Regions from separate parts of the Homo sapiens genome. Here region 1 is linked to region 2. The links come from fine-mapping of genetic effects on gene expression. Tissue or cell type: pancreas. Region 2 holds a variant in brackets; the other region holds the start of a gene. All regions are shown on one strand. Distances are between the middles of the regions.

Region 1 (5,584 bases), 260 kb before region 2:
AAACTGTGGGTATGTTGGGTAATGTAATAGGTGAATCCTTGTATGGGCTGTTTAATATCCACAAAAATATATACTAAGTGTTTTTTTAAACCAATGAATATTAATGGAAAATCCTCCTTTGTCAAGAATTATTCTAGAAGATATGGGTGAGAGCAGGGCATATAGAAGATATTCTGTTATAGAAAAGCTATAAAATTGACAGGGGAACAAAAACTAACATAATTGGCACAACTATAAAAAAATCCAAAATATTCAGGCCATGAAGTTTTTGCCCTACAATTTAAGCGAAAATATGCAACTCATTTATTCACTTTGTCTTTTTTTTCTTTTTCTTTTTCTCTCTTTTTTTTTTTCAGAGATAGGGTCTTGCTCTATCTCCCAGGTTGGAGTGCAGTGGCATGATCATAGCTCACTGTAACTATTAACTCCTGGGCTCAAGCAATTCTATCCCATCTCAGCCTCCCAATAGCTAAGACTACAGGTGTGCACCACCATACCCAGCTCATTAAAAAAAAAAAAAAAAAAAGGTAGAGTTGAGGTCTCACTATGTTGCCCAGGTTGGTCTGGAACTTCTGGCCTCAAGGGATCCTCCCACTTCAGCCTCCCAAAATGCTAGAATTACAAGCATGAGCCACCACACCTGGCCCATTCCTTCACTTCGTGCAACATAATTGCCATCAGAAACCAGACTTTTTTTTTTTTTTTACTACAGAGACTTAAACTTTTACAAAAGGAAGATGTTTTTCTCATTTAAATTGTCATTCTAGGGACAGAAAGTAAGTTTTGAAAAGAAGTAGCTTTTATGGAAGAGAGGTGCCTGAGAATTTCAAAAGGATTTAAGACAAGGGGAATGAGAAGAGATTGAATGAAAGAAGAGAAAACAGAGAGAAAGAGTAATTAAAAAAAAGAAAAGAAAAGAAAACAAAGATAATCCCAAAGAGCAGTGTGCACAGTTTTGCTGCAATCAGTACCATTCTGGTCAAGTCTCCGTCATCTGCTCTAGGCTTAGTTCCTCTCTGCCCTAGGCTGCTTCTGGTAAAACCGCACGCTCAGCTTGTTGGGCGTCTTCATGGAGCCTGTTATTTGCTGTGGGTCTAAGAAAGGGAAAGCTTCAGGCTTCAGGCATCTGTACCTCCTATCTGTTCTCAGCTCCATGGAAATTCTTAAGGGATGGGGCTATAGATAAGAGAGTGGGAAATGGAGATCAAGGTCTCAAATGAAAGGCAGGGTGGTTTGATTTTTAAGCTCCCCTGATACTTTTTATTTATATATTTGCTGCTTCTAGAAAAACCAAAAAAGGAAAGTGATTCATACATAGAATGCCTGTACAAATAGCAAACCAATAACTACCCCCAGCAGATTCTGGCCCTTGCCAGGGTGCGGTTTCAGAGCTGTAAAAGGCAAGGGATATGTACATTGAAATGACCCAGTCCCAGAATATTTTAGATTCAGAAAAGGTCAGAGACTTTCGTAACTAGCAATGACCTCCAGATTAGGGACCATGAATGTGCAGAGTGAGGACAAGGAAGGGGCCTAAAGCTGGGTCTACTGTAGAATAAACAGAATCATTTAAGGTTAATTATGTTCTGATGTGGCCTCCTTAAATTCTTTCAGGCTGGGGACAATTTCTAGCCCTTTAAGATCAAATCAGTGGCTTTGGACTAGAATCTGCTTAATAAGAATGAACTCCAAAGGTGAAAAAAAAACATAAAATCTAAAAATCAAAGGATATGCCTTTATAAATGTGAAAGTTTAGTTTGGCTCAATGTTGGTCAGTTTAGAAATGTGGGAGTAATCGGAGAGATGGCATAACTGGGGGCGGGAGGCGGGGCGGTGATTATACCCCTACCACTACCTAATCCTCAGGGGCTACCAGTTACTTGCTGTACACACTTTTAAAGTACTTTCTAATTGTGGACCATGAGTGGCAGAGTACTGCGGGCGGAGGCTTTTTGCTGAAAGCAACATTGACTTTTATTTCTAGGGAAAGTCTTGTCTGTAGATGAGCACCGTGGGGCAACGGAGAAAATGCTGACTTTCTTGTTTAAAAAAAAAAAAAATTTCCGTAAGCGGCCCTCCAATGGTCCGTCCACTCAGCAGGCCAGCTGTCCCAGGCCTCTGCCAGGGAGGGAAGACGAGTGCTTCAGTGCATGGCTTCGGTGAGCCCTTTAAATCCAGCTTCCCCTGCCCCCACCAAGAGGCTCCCTTTCCCTGACAGGTGTTTTCCCAACTCCGGAGGCCCAGGATTTTGGGGAGTGGCTGAGCCAATAAGATTTCCCTTTGGAAGGGGGGGGGAAGGGCGTGGCTAGTTGGGTCAGAGCATGGGCGGGGTTTGCGCGGCTGAGCAGAGCCGGCCTGGTTGCGTGGAGGGTTGTTTTATTCCCACCGCCCCCCGCACCTTTTTTTTTTTTTTTTCTGGAGTCTTATTAATTTCTCTGTGGGCTGCAGCTGGAGACCGCGGAGCGCTGGAAATGACGCTCGGAGCTTTAATTACCGCAGCCGCCGGACAAGTGTGAGGAAAGCTGAGAGGAAAAAGAAGGACGGGATCCGGGGAGAAGCGAGAAGCTCCCCCCGCCCCGCTCCCCTCCCGATTTGGACTGGAGGTGCAAGGAAACTGAAGAAGGAGCAGAACATAGCCCGGCTGCGGGGAGAGGCCGGAAACCTACCGCCTCTTTGCAATCAACTTTTTTTGGAAACCTTTCGCCCCCCTTCCTTTTTTATTGTTGACCAACCAGTGAGAGAGAGAGAAAGTGAGGAGGGAGCGAGCAAGCGAAGGCTCACGCGGGGAAATAGCTGCACAGTCCGGCCCAGAGCGCCAAGCGCACACACCGAGCACACTCCCACACGCGCACACACGCGCTCACACTCGCCCCCTCCTCGGGCCCCGGCCCTGGACCCGCGGGCGCGGACTCGGTCGCCCGCCCTGGGAGTCGCCACACCGCGCGCGCCGCGCCCGCCCCCCTCGCACCCCCACGCGCGCCCGGCTGGGGGATCTCCTCCGCGTGCCCGAAAGGGGGATATGCCATTTGGACATGTAATTGTCAGCACGGGATCTGAGACTTCCAAAAAATGAAGCCGGCGACAGGACTTTGGGTCTGGGTGAGCCTTCTCGTGGCGGCGGGGACCGTCCAGCCCAGCGATTCTCAGTCAGGTGGGTTCCTTCTGGCACTCCGGTCGCCGAACCTGCAGCCGCCGGCGGGGCTGCCTCGAGTGGCTCCCCTGCCCTCTTCACCCATCCCGGGAGGCGTGGAGGGACCGCTTGACCGGGGCCTCTTCCCTGGGCTTTCGGTCACCCCTCTTTCCATTTGAAACTTACCCTGTATGTGTGCGTTTGCTTTATTTATCGTGAAAAATCACTCTGAGTCCCTCTTTTCTCTCCTTAACCCCCTGCTTTTCTTTCCCGAGCGTTTTGTTTGGGAGCCTAAGCGGGATCCCTTCTGGTGGCGCCTGTTGTTCGGGACATGGGAGACCCAAATCCCCAGTCAGAGGAGACTCTTCTGTCCCTGTCGGGTCCCCGAGGGCAGAACCCGCACCGCCGGGGCCGCGGTCCTGGGGCGGTGCTGGCTGGGCCTCTCCCGAGCCGAGCCCGAAGGGCGGTGGAGAGCGGCGCTCAGAAAATCGGGCTTTGCACCTGTGTGTGCTGCTGGCGACCGCTGCGCCCCCAGTCGCCCGAGCCTTGTGGCGTCAGACGCAACTCGCGCCCAGCCCGGGCAGCCGGAGTGCAGCAGGCGGGCGCGCCTCGGTCCGGGGCCCGGAGTTCTGGGCCTCTTCCGCCGGCTTCCCGGAGCCCTCTCCCCATTGACTTGAGGGGCGCTTACTCGCCTGCCTGACCTCTTAAAAAAAAAAAAAAAGGCTTGGCACACTTGAGCCAGAAGCCCGGCCTTCCCGTCGGTTGCCGTGTTTGGCTCCGGGAAGAGTTCTTCCTGTAGTTCAACTTGCTATTGGCCGGAGTCCTTCAAACTTGTCTGTTTACTGCCCGGCCAGGCTGCCGAGCCTGCGGGTCACTGGATCCACCCGAGGCGAAAGCGGCAGCGGCGATGGGTGCGCGGCCACTGCTTGCTGGAGAGCTCGAGCCCCAGGTACCTGGGCAGGCAAAGGGCTAATTGACCCCGAGAGGCAGCGCGGCGGGGCTGGCCCGCCACGGCTTGCAGGACTAATGACAGCACCTGCAGTGCAATGGAGCTCAAAGTTTCTGACACTAGAGTTTCCTGGGGATGAAAGTGGGACGGGAGAGGTCTGAGGAGGACCGGTGTCTTGACGTGGCCAAGGGGTGCCTTTTGGAGAGCCAGAGAGATTTCCGAAACCATCCAGGGATGGTGACTGGAGCGTGGGAAGTAGCTTGAGGTGATAAAGCCCCCGGGAGTGGCGATAGGGAGCGCTTTAGGCCCCCGGAGGGTGTCCTTCTGACCTCACCAAGAAAACGGCTAGCTGTAGTTTTCCCGCTCCGCCGCCGCCGCCGCCGCCGCCTCCTTTGCCTAGTAAATAACAAGTTACAATTATCGAGTCTTTCAAAATGACCTTCGAATGGCACATGTGAGGCGTTTGTGCTGGCCGTTTGCACCCTCCCAATTACTCCGAAATTCTTCACGCATACCAGGTCCCGCGCTCCAGCCACCTCCGGAATCACACCAACACGGACTTGACATTCCAAGCGGCCTCTTAGATACATCTCTTTTTATCTCCCTCCCCACTTCGAGTCCCTTCATATTTTCCCTCAATGGGTTGATTATGCACATTGACCCATTCAAAGGCATTGGCGACCGACATGCAGGCTTAGCCGAGAGGAATTTCTACGAGGCGACCTACTGGGGGCTGTCTGGTTCAGCCTCTGCCACTGGGGGACCCCGCTCCGAGTCCGCAGCAATTTGGTATTAACTGTGCGGCTCCGAGTTGAGCTATGCCGAAAAGCCCTTTTCAGAATTTCTGCAAGGAATGTAATCCAAATTAGTTCTGCAGCTGTCCTCTTCCTCGTCTCAGGCGACACTAGCTCGCGCCCTCGCTTCGTCTCTTCTCGTTTCCCTGGGCGAATTGTCAGACCCACAAGTGAGCCCATTTAGAGCGCGAGGATTAGCGTGCCATTGTTGTTCCGTGTGTGACTCTGTACTTGAAATTCTGGGGGCACAAAGGCGAGCCTCACTTGTTCAAAACACAAAGTGATCCAGATGAAAGGGCCGCACAAAGAAAAGCTCTCGGGTGCATCCCTGGTATAATTGCAACACGCATACTAAGGTGATCCATTGGAAACTGTAAATGCCCCGGGGGACTTCGTTTTTCATCCTCCCCCACCCCCACCCTGCCGCACCTGGCAGGGAAAGTTCAGCTGGTTTTAATGCAGTGCTATTATAAAAACAAGTTACTGTCTGGGGTATGAGTGAGGCTGTGTGTGTTTGTGCCTATGTATGTGTGTGGCTGTGTGTTCCCAACTAAATACATATTGCGCGTCTCCCCTCTCGCGGTTAGCAGTCAGTAGCAGTTTGGAGGAGTTTGTTTTGGTCCAAATGAGAAATTAAGTGCGGATAAGTAAACTAAGCTGCCAGAGGGCGACAAGATGTTGAGTGAATTGCTTTTAGATGAAACAAATTAA
Region 2 (8,423 bases):
TCCATGCTCCACCCTCCAAAAGGCCCCAGTGCGTGTTGTTGCCCTCTATGTGTCCGTGTGTTTTCATCATTTAACTCCCACTTATAAGTGAAAACATGTTAAGTATTTCATGTTAGTTTGCTCAGGATAATGGCTTCCAACTCCATCCATGTCCCTGCAAAGGACATAATGTCGTTCTTTTTTATTGGCCTAATTCTTAGGCAGTCTTTTCTGGAATTGTGACAGAAAAGGTTCAAAGCAGTTATTTTTTTTCATATTATATCCATAGTTGTGTTTTTATTGCAAAGAGCACGCCTCTTACTGGATACCTCCTATCACTATTGATAGGGAAATAAGGTCATCTCATTGACTAGCGATGAAGCCTGTTAGGTTACCCCCTGTTTGGAGTAGGCAGAGGGATCAGTTCACAAGAATCTTTTGGAGCAGATTCATTTTAAAACATAAAAAATTATGTTAATAGAAAGGTGAACAAAAAGCATATTTGAGAGGCAAAACTATGGCTACTACTGTTTGTGACAAAAATTATCAAAAGTTATACTTACATATGGGTTTCTGTCTGTCTTCTCACCTATAGCTCTGTGAAAAATAAGTGTTGCTCACTGCTGAGTACTCTTACAAGTGTGACTGGCTGGGGCTGGTGTTGCCGGTGGTAAAGGAATTTACCAAGACAGTTGTAGGGGGAGAAAAATAAAGGCACATTTATTAGAGAAAGTATGAAAATTCATTGCAAGGGTGCAATATGTAGCACTACAGAGAAGGGGCTGTCTGCAAAGAGGCAGGGGCTGGAGGGAAGTTTTATAAGGTCTTCTGGAGGGGGCTACATGCTGATCGAGGTTGTGCCATTTGGGCTACCTGTGGAGCAAGGTCGTTGTGTCAGCGCGTTGTTTATGGTTACTTGTCTCTCAGAACAATTGTTCTCTCCTACCTTGGGCCCCTCCCTGGTGGTTATCAAGACTCCACAAATATCCAGTGCCTCTTGCGCTTTAGGATATATATTAAGAAGTCACTGGCTGTGCACGGTGGCTCACGCCCGTAATCCCAGTACTTTGGGAGGCAGAGGCTGGCGGATCGCTTGAGTTCAGAAGTTGGGGAACAGCGTGGGCAACATGGCGGAAATCCCGTCTCTACAAAAAAAAAAAAAAAAAAAAAAATTAACCCTCATGGTGCCACCCGCCTATAGTCCCAGCTACTTGGGGAGCTGAGGCAGGAGGATTGTGTGAACTCAGGAGGTCAAGGCTGCAGTGAGTCGAGATTGCCCCATTGCACTCCAGCTAGGTAACAAAGCGAGACTCTGTGTCAAAAAAAAAAAAAAAAAAAAAAAAAAGTCAGCACTTATGTAATCATCTCATTTAATCTGAACAACTTTAATATGCATTTTCTCCATTGTAAAAGAGAAAACTGAGGCTCAGAGAGGTTATGCAACCCATCTATATTTATATTTTATATGTATTGTGTCCAGATATAACACAGAGATACCTTTTTGAAAAAGTTACTGAAGTTGCTTTTATAAATGTTATGGGTAGTACAGAAACTTATGTGGGTCTAGAAACTTTGATGTGTTCACTGAATTTCAAATTCGTTCAATATACTTATTATGAATCACTAAGGTTTCTTGTAGGCCCACTTAAAATATTTGTACTGTTTTAAAAAATAATTTCCTTCTGATATTGGTTGTATTTCATAATAATAATGTTAATGTTTAATGCTTCAGTAAACCGTAAGAACCAATGTAATAGTAGTTAGCTGCCTGTTTTGTTAACAAGTAACCCTGAATTAATATGTACCTCTTGCTTTGAAATCTCGGTCTCAGTAAGATTTGAAGTGATTATGAGGAGACACTCAAGGGAGCCAACGTGTAACTCATGTTGCCCATTATGACATTTGACTATATCTGTGTCGAATAAATGTCCTTAATGCTATGTAAAGGACAGAAAGATAAACAATCATGTCAAATCATACATATAATATCTAGCCAAGCCATTGACCCAAATCAAAACATATGTAGAAAGAAATAAGGGGCCTATCATCCAAGAAATTTGTTTTGATATCTATTACTGGGTATTTTTGAGCCTGAATATTAGAGAGTCTAGAGTTATATAAAATCTATTCTACTCGAATACCAAGCTGTATATTGTAGGTATGGCTAGGTATTGATGCAAATTCTTACTTTATAAATCAATTTTTGATGCTCAATTTTTTTATAATTTTTCCTCCTCTTAAAATATTGTAAGTCCTCATTTTTAACAAACTGAATATCTGTTATTGACTTTGCATTCCATATATTTGTCATAATCATTTTTTAGATTTTTAATCCAGGTTGACTTCGTAACTAGCATTTGGGACCATATATATTTTCATTCCTGCTCAAATAACTGGCTTACCACCTAACCCACTACTCTATTCAGTCTTCCCTTGAATTTTGTCATTATGGCAAAAGAACTGTGTGAAGTTATTAGCAATTTTGGCTACAGTCTCTCTTAGAATGTTTGTTGTCCTTAGGGACTCACAGCAGGCAAAAAAAAAAAAAATCACAGTCCCCTTCAGCAACCTGTGCTTTTCTGAAATATTGGCTTTGACAAGCCTGCAGGGGTGAGAAATAATTTTGTGTGTGAGGGTTTGCACTTCATGGATGTCTTTCTGAGTTAATTACCAGGAGGAAATGGAAAGAGAGCCATTCTCACCCTTACCTTCAACCACGTGATTATGTGACCATAGTGCTGAATGATTATCTCTGTTTTGGCGAAAGTCTATAACTGAGCCTTCATTTAAAACTGGTACCTGGCACTAATCTGATTGAGTATATTGATCATATTGATGTAAATATCAGACCACCTGGTCTTTCCAAGGCTTCTAATGATATCTTACATCTTGTTTTTATTCGTTTTGAGCTATCAAATTACATTAAGGTTATAAGAGAAACCTGTCTGTCTCTGATGCCCATAGCTACTTGCCATTTGAAGGGCTGCCTGTCAAGATGCTATGTCTTACCTCTCTCCAGAAAGTTCAGCTTAAAACACTGAGGCTTACTGAACTTCTGGACAATTATTTAGTATTCATAAAGAGCTTTTCCGAGAAGATTCTGCCAGCCATCCTGTTATTTGTAAACACCTTTATGCAGTGCTCAAAAATAATGTGGTCAGGTTACAAAGGAAAAATAAAATAACTAAAGAGGAAGAAATACATATTTAACTTATGTTTAGGTATAAGTAAACTTCTAAAGACAACAAGCAAATGATGGTTATGTATTTCATGCTATGGAATACACAGGCAAAAAGATACTCAAATAGTCTGTCAAATACTTCAAAAACATGAGCTAAGTTTAAAGCAGACAGAATATTTGAAGTACACCACAAATGGAAATGCCCCAGAAATCTTTTATCAATTGGGCCTTATGTTCACTCTTGTAATAAAGAGGCTTTTGGAGTTTATATGCCATAGTCTAATAGGTGACTGCTTAATGGGATTTACATTCACTCAAACAAAATTAGGCTGGTAAAAGACAATGCAACATGCTGTAATGTAAATGGGACTGACGGCAGAATTAAATGTTTGTGGAAACAGGGCAGCAGATCTATCAAGAGCTAATTAGACAGAGTTCAGAGGCAGGCTTGGGAGTAAATAGTATCAACAAAGAAAGAAGGAGGGCAAGAATGGACAGAAAAAAGATCTTTTGTGCAGAGAAGAAAAGGAACTATACAAAAGTTATTTAATTAGAGACTCAGATGGAGTTTCTCCCATGAGAAAAACTTATATTCTTATCTGAACCTGTTGATAATATTACGTTGAATAAAAACTTTGATAAATTATTGTGTGTCTAAGTGCTTCTTTGTAATAATTGACTTTAATAGCATTCT[C/T]TTCACATAGTAACTGTTCTAGCTATGTTCACTGTACCCAGAAAAAAAATTTTGGAAGTTTATTTGAAGTTTTTCTCACAGAAAGAATAACACAGAAGTTTTGCCAAAATTTAGAGAGTTTGAGGCTTTAGGAAAGAGAAAGGGTAAAAGTGTCAATAAACAATAACAATGAGGAATAACAACTGTGGATTCATTTTAATTAGCATGTGAACAAACATAATATTAATTTTTGAAAACTTCAAATTTTCAACTCTTCACTGTGGTATGTCACTATAGTAACTATTTTTCACCTGAGCCATTGTATAGGGAAAAGGATCTAGCCTTTGGTATAGCTAGGAAACCATTTTGATGAAATAAATCAGGATCTGTATGCTTGATATTCAAAGTAGTAAAGGCTGACTACTTGATACATTTTCTTTTTTAACCTCAAATTCAGCATTTAAACTAGCATTGCATGAATCATTTTCCATTAAAAAAACTTAATGAATATTTTAGGGTTTAAAATTGTTTTAACAAACTCTAAGGGGTGATACATATCTTATTTTGCATGAAACCAAGAGTATATCAGATACATTTCAGGATATTTGCATTCTGCCAGTAATAAACTTTTAATTATAACAAACCTTTCAGTTTGTCAATAATTACTATCTACCTCACAGGGCTATTGTAAGGATAAGGTGCACTAATATATGTGAAAGTGCTTGGGAAATGTGGGATTACCGTACAAATTGTGCCATATGATACCGGAATCTTTATGAGAGACTGTTGCCATGCTGATGGGCATACGGATTTTTAAATGGCAAGTGTTATATTGAGTAATTAAACCCAGCAGTTCAAGTCATACTGATTGCTTTTTTGCCTCCTGTACTACACAAACAAAGAATTGTTCTGTGGGCATGTTCTAGATTGTTTGTGGTTTGGTTAATCCGTGAAATCCATGGTCTGCATTACTGTCAGCAGTTAATGCCCTGAGATTGCTTTATTCTTTAATGAAATGATCAGTAAGATTAGAATTGTTTTGTCCCTGCCATGGAAATAGACCGAGTATGAATGCCCAGTTTCTCTTGGTGGAGTTCCAATCTGTCTCTGACCCAAAAATATAGGTGGTATTTGGCAGTTTGTCTACCCACTTGTGACAAAGACATCTATCTTTCCCCATTTGTAAAAGAGAGAAACTGGATTGGGTCAATTTTACAATAGGTACATTTTGCTTCTGAACATTCTGAACACGTAAGGCAACATCCTGTTACTTCCAGTGATATTGTCAAGGTTTCCTAAACTTGGCTAATTACCAAAGTCACCTGGGGGAGCCACTTAAAAATACAAATTCCCAGGCACTTTCCCTGGAGATTCTGCTTCAGTGGGTTTGGGGCAAAGCCAGAAGATTTCAAGTGACTCTAATGATTATGGAGGTTAGCCAAGCTGGAAAACCACTCATGAAGTGGTATAAAATATATCCCATTATTTTTGTCCATAGTAAATAACAAGTATATTATTTGTCCTTATTGGCCTTGAAATGTTTATGAAATAAATATGATGGACACACTCGAGGTCCCTGGGTTACTTCATACAAGTCGAATAATCAAATAGAGTTTGTATCTTCCCATAGTAAATCAGGGCGATAACACCTGAGTTACCTCAAGTGCAGTTGTGATAAAGAGAAATATTTTTTAAAAAGTGCTTTCCAGAGTTCAAAGGTGAAAGTAGCCTGCTTGTAATGAACAACTCAGAGACTTGGGTTTTACTCCCAGCTCTGTTGCCAAGTCACTTTGTAACCAAGTTTACAATTATTTTAGCTTTCTGAATTTTATTTGCCTTGCCTATAAAATGAGGGAATTGAAAAAATACATATCCCTGTGGTGCCTGCCAGGTTAATCTTTTCTATGGGCAGCATCGGGCTACGTAACAAAGTCCAGATGGTAGAATTGTTCACTTCATTGTTATTTAGTGACCATCAGAGAATATTATGATAACCTGAGAATTTTGGCATTCTCTCAAATATAACTTCTAAATGATCAAATTGTTCATTGCAATGTTGGGCATGTTATCAAATGATTTTTAAAATATATTTTTATACTCTGGCACACAATGCATACTTTTTTTGACTTTTAGTTTTATAAACGTATCGTGTATTGAGTGGCATAGGTTTTGCAGTCTGGGTTAGACAATTGATTTTTACACTTTATAACACATTGAAGCAGAGTTGCATAAATTACCCTTGTTACTATTTTGGAAGGTAAATAGGCCTAAAATTCTACTATGTCACACATATAGGCTCAGAATTTAAGTAGATGGAAAGATGCTATTTGGTAAATTATGGAAAAATAATATACTAATTTAAGCTCCAGGTTATTTGATGAACCACATAATGTGCCATAGAGACTTCAAGGCTTTCAATGCAGAAATTTTCTAGAAACAATACACTTCAGCTATTTAAATGCTTGCCTTGTAAGGAGAGAACAAGATGGAAAGAACTGAAAGAAACCAGAGTGACCCAAATGGCTGGAACACAGAGAGCTAGAGCAACTGATGTAAATGAAATGGGTAATCCTGACTACTACAAATAGAAATTTTAAAAATGCGAGCTCACAGAGGAATCAACAGTTCTGTGGATGATTTCTGTTTCCCAAATATCCATATGTGACTGGGGATGGCATTTGTTTAGAAGTCTTAGTCTTGTAGGATTTTACATCTTGAGGGAAAACTTTTTACCTATTGCACACTTTTAAAATTTTACACTAATTCCCGTAACATCTCACTTCTACATTTTACAAATAAAGTAATTCACATAGTGCTTTAAACATCTTGGAAAGAGGGAGGCAAATTCATCAGACTCTTAAAGAAAATCAGTTAAATTATATTAATGAAATTAGTAGACTAATGATAATAGAAGAGCAAATTGAGATCTGTGACGGTTTCAGAAGATTTCTTAAATTGCAAATATGTTTTTTAGAAAAAAAAAGAAGGGCTTTCAGTATTTCTGAGGGGGAGTTGTGAAGAAGAATTTTAGTAAATAATTCCTAGAGGAATGTGACTTTACAAAAAAAATTTTCTTATCTTTTTCCTGCTTAATTTCATTAAGTGTCAAAAGACGGAGTATAGACAGTACAAAACCAAGTGTGTCAAGTCCTCGGATCTAGGTCTGGTTCTTCTGATCATGAGAAAGCCACACACTTTCTCTGATCCCCAGTTTCTGATTCCTAAAATGAGAGCTTTGAGTGAGAACATCTCTAGGGTCCTCCTGGTTTTAACAGTTTCTATGACTTTAGTCCATCTTTAGTTTCATTCAATTCATGATGCTTTTACTTCATGCCTGCATCTTTTTCCACTGTGGTTTGCTTCTTTCTGCCAATGATTTCATTATTCTGGAATCTACTTCAGTGTGAATAAAGTTATCTAACTGTAATACTCCTGATAAAAAATGTTGCCTACTTCAGGAAAACAACAACAACAGCAACAGAAACGCAGAGAAGACATTTGAGGCATGTTCAGGAGCAACTCTTTTTATGTCTAAAAGGTGATTGGCCCAAATTTGGCTTAATTTGTATATAAAAAATTTAAGATGTAGAATATTGATTTTTACATGCTTGACTTTGGGGAAAACTATGAATCACTTCATTCTTCATTAACCTTTCAGCAAGTGTTAAAGAATTTTGGCTTTTTTGTCTCAGACATTTTTGGTGAATTAACCATTCCAAGTGGGGAGATCAGATGCCCAGACCCAAGGCATTGACAGATAAATTAAATAATGGATTTTCATGTCTTGCCTTAAAAATATGTTGGTTGCTACAGGAAAAAATTAATGAATATGTTCTACTAGCAAAAATTGCCTATATATCTAACAACTACTATATTTTTGAGAGCAACTGGGTGGCTGGTTGTTCAAACAGGTAATGAGGTACAACCTTTTATTATTTACTCAGTCTGTGTTGGTATCACATTGTGATTTAGGATTTTATTTTATTTTTCAAATAATTTATTTCCCATCTTCTGAGGCAGATTTTCAAGTTCTTTTTGAAGAAAATTTCTTTACATTGCAATTCAATTGCAGATATCAAAATTATTCTAGATGTTGTTTGATTATTGTTTGAAATGAATGAGTTTTGTTAGGATAAATAATTATTTTCTAAAACTTTATAATGTAATTACATTTCTCTTTCACACTTAAACATTTTTGGCCTATATGCAACAACTTTTTGTATCCTTTTCTAGATTAAAATATTGTCCTTAATTTAAAGACTTTCTCTAGAAACCAATGACCTATACATTCACGACGTTGGAATTTAATTTTAAAAAGAAATGTCTGTTTCATCACAAACAATAAAAAAGATCAAGATTCACCAACTTTTTGAAAGAAAAGTAAGACTCATATTGGCATATTTTTTGAAGAAGGATGATACCACAGGTCTTTTGATTAATTAAAAAAGCAAAAGCTATCTTTTAAAATTAATCTGAAGACAAAGTTAGCAAAAATTGATGGGATGAAGATAAATAGAAACAAGATAAAATGGTCATAGAATCAGCCTTTGAATCATAATGAAAACTTATTGCTTTGATGATAATTATGTG

Direction of the effects. Alleles are on the strand shown, and positions count from the first base shown. SD is a standard deviation of normalised expression in the study named.
With allele C in place of T in region 2, the expression in pancreas of the gene that starts at base 2,798 in region 1 is lower (large effect, 1.1 SD a copy in GTEx).

Evidence for each region. PIP is the estimated chance that this variant, and not a neighbour inherited with it, causes the effect.
Region 1: ERBB4 starts here. The variant in region 2 is fine-mapped to the expression of ERBB4 in pancreas (GTEx, PIP above 0.99).

Annotation. Positions count from the first base shown.
Region 1 is chr2:212,536,016-212,541,599 of GRCh38, reverse strand. ERBB4 (erb-b2 receptor tyrosine kinase 4) reads left to right here and starts at 2,798. Exons shown (of 28, transcript NM_005235.3): 1 at 2,798-3,151. The coding sequence starts at 3,070. RefSeq lists an enhancer at 3,767-4,267.
Region 2 is chr2:212,279,496-212,287,918 of GRCh38, reverse strand. The region is part of intron 1 of ERBB4 (erb-b2 receptor tyrosine kinase 4); the gene reads left to right. Among named protein-coding and RNA genes, the nearest start is that of MIR548F2, 140 kb to the left of the region's middle. The variant C/T (reference allele first, on the strand shown) is at 3,855.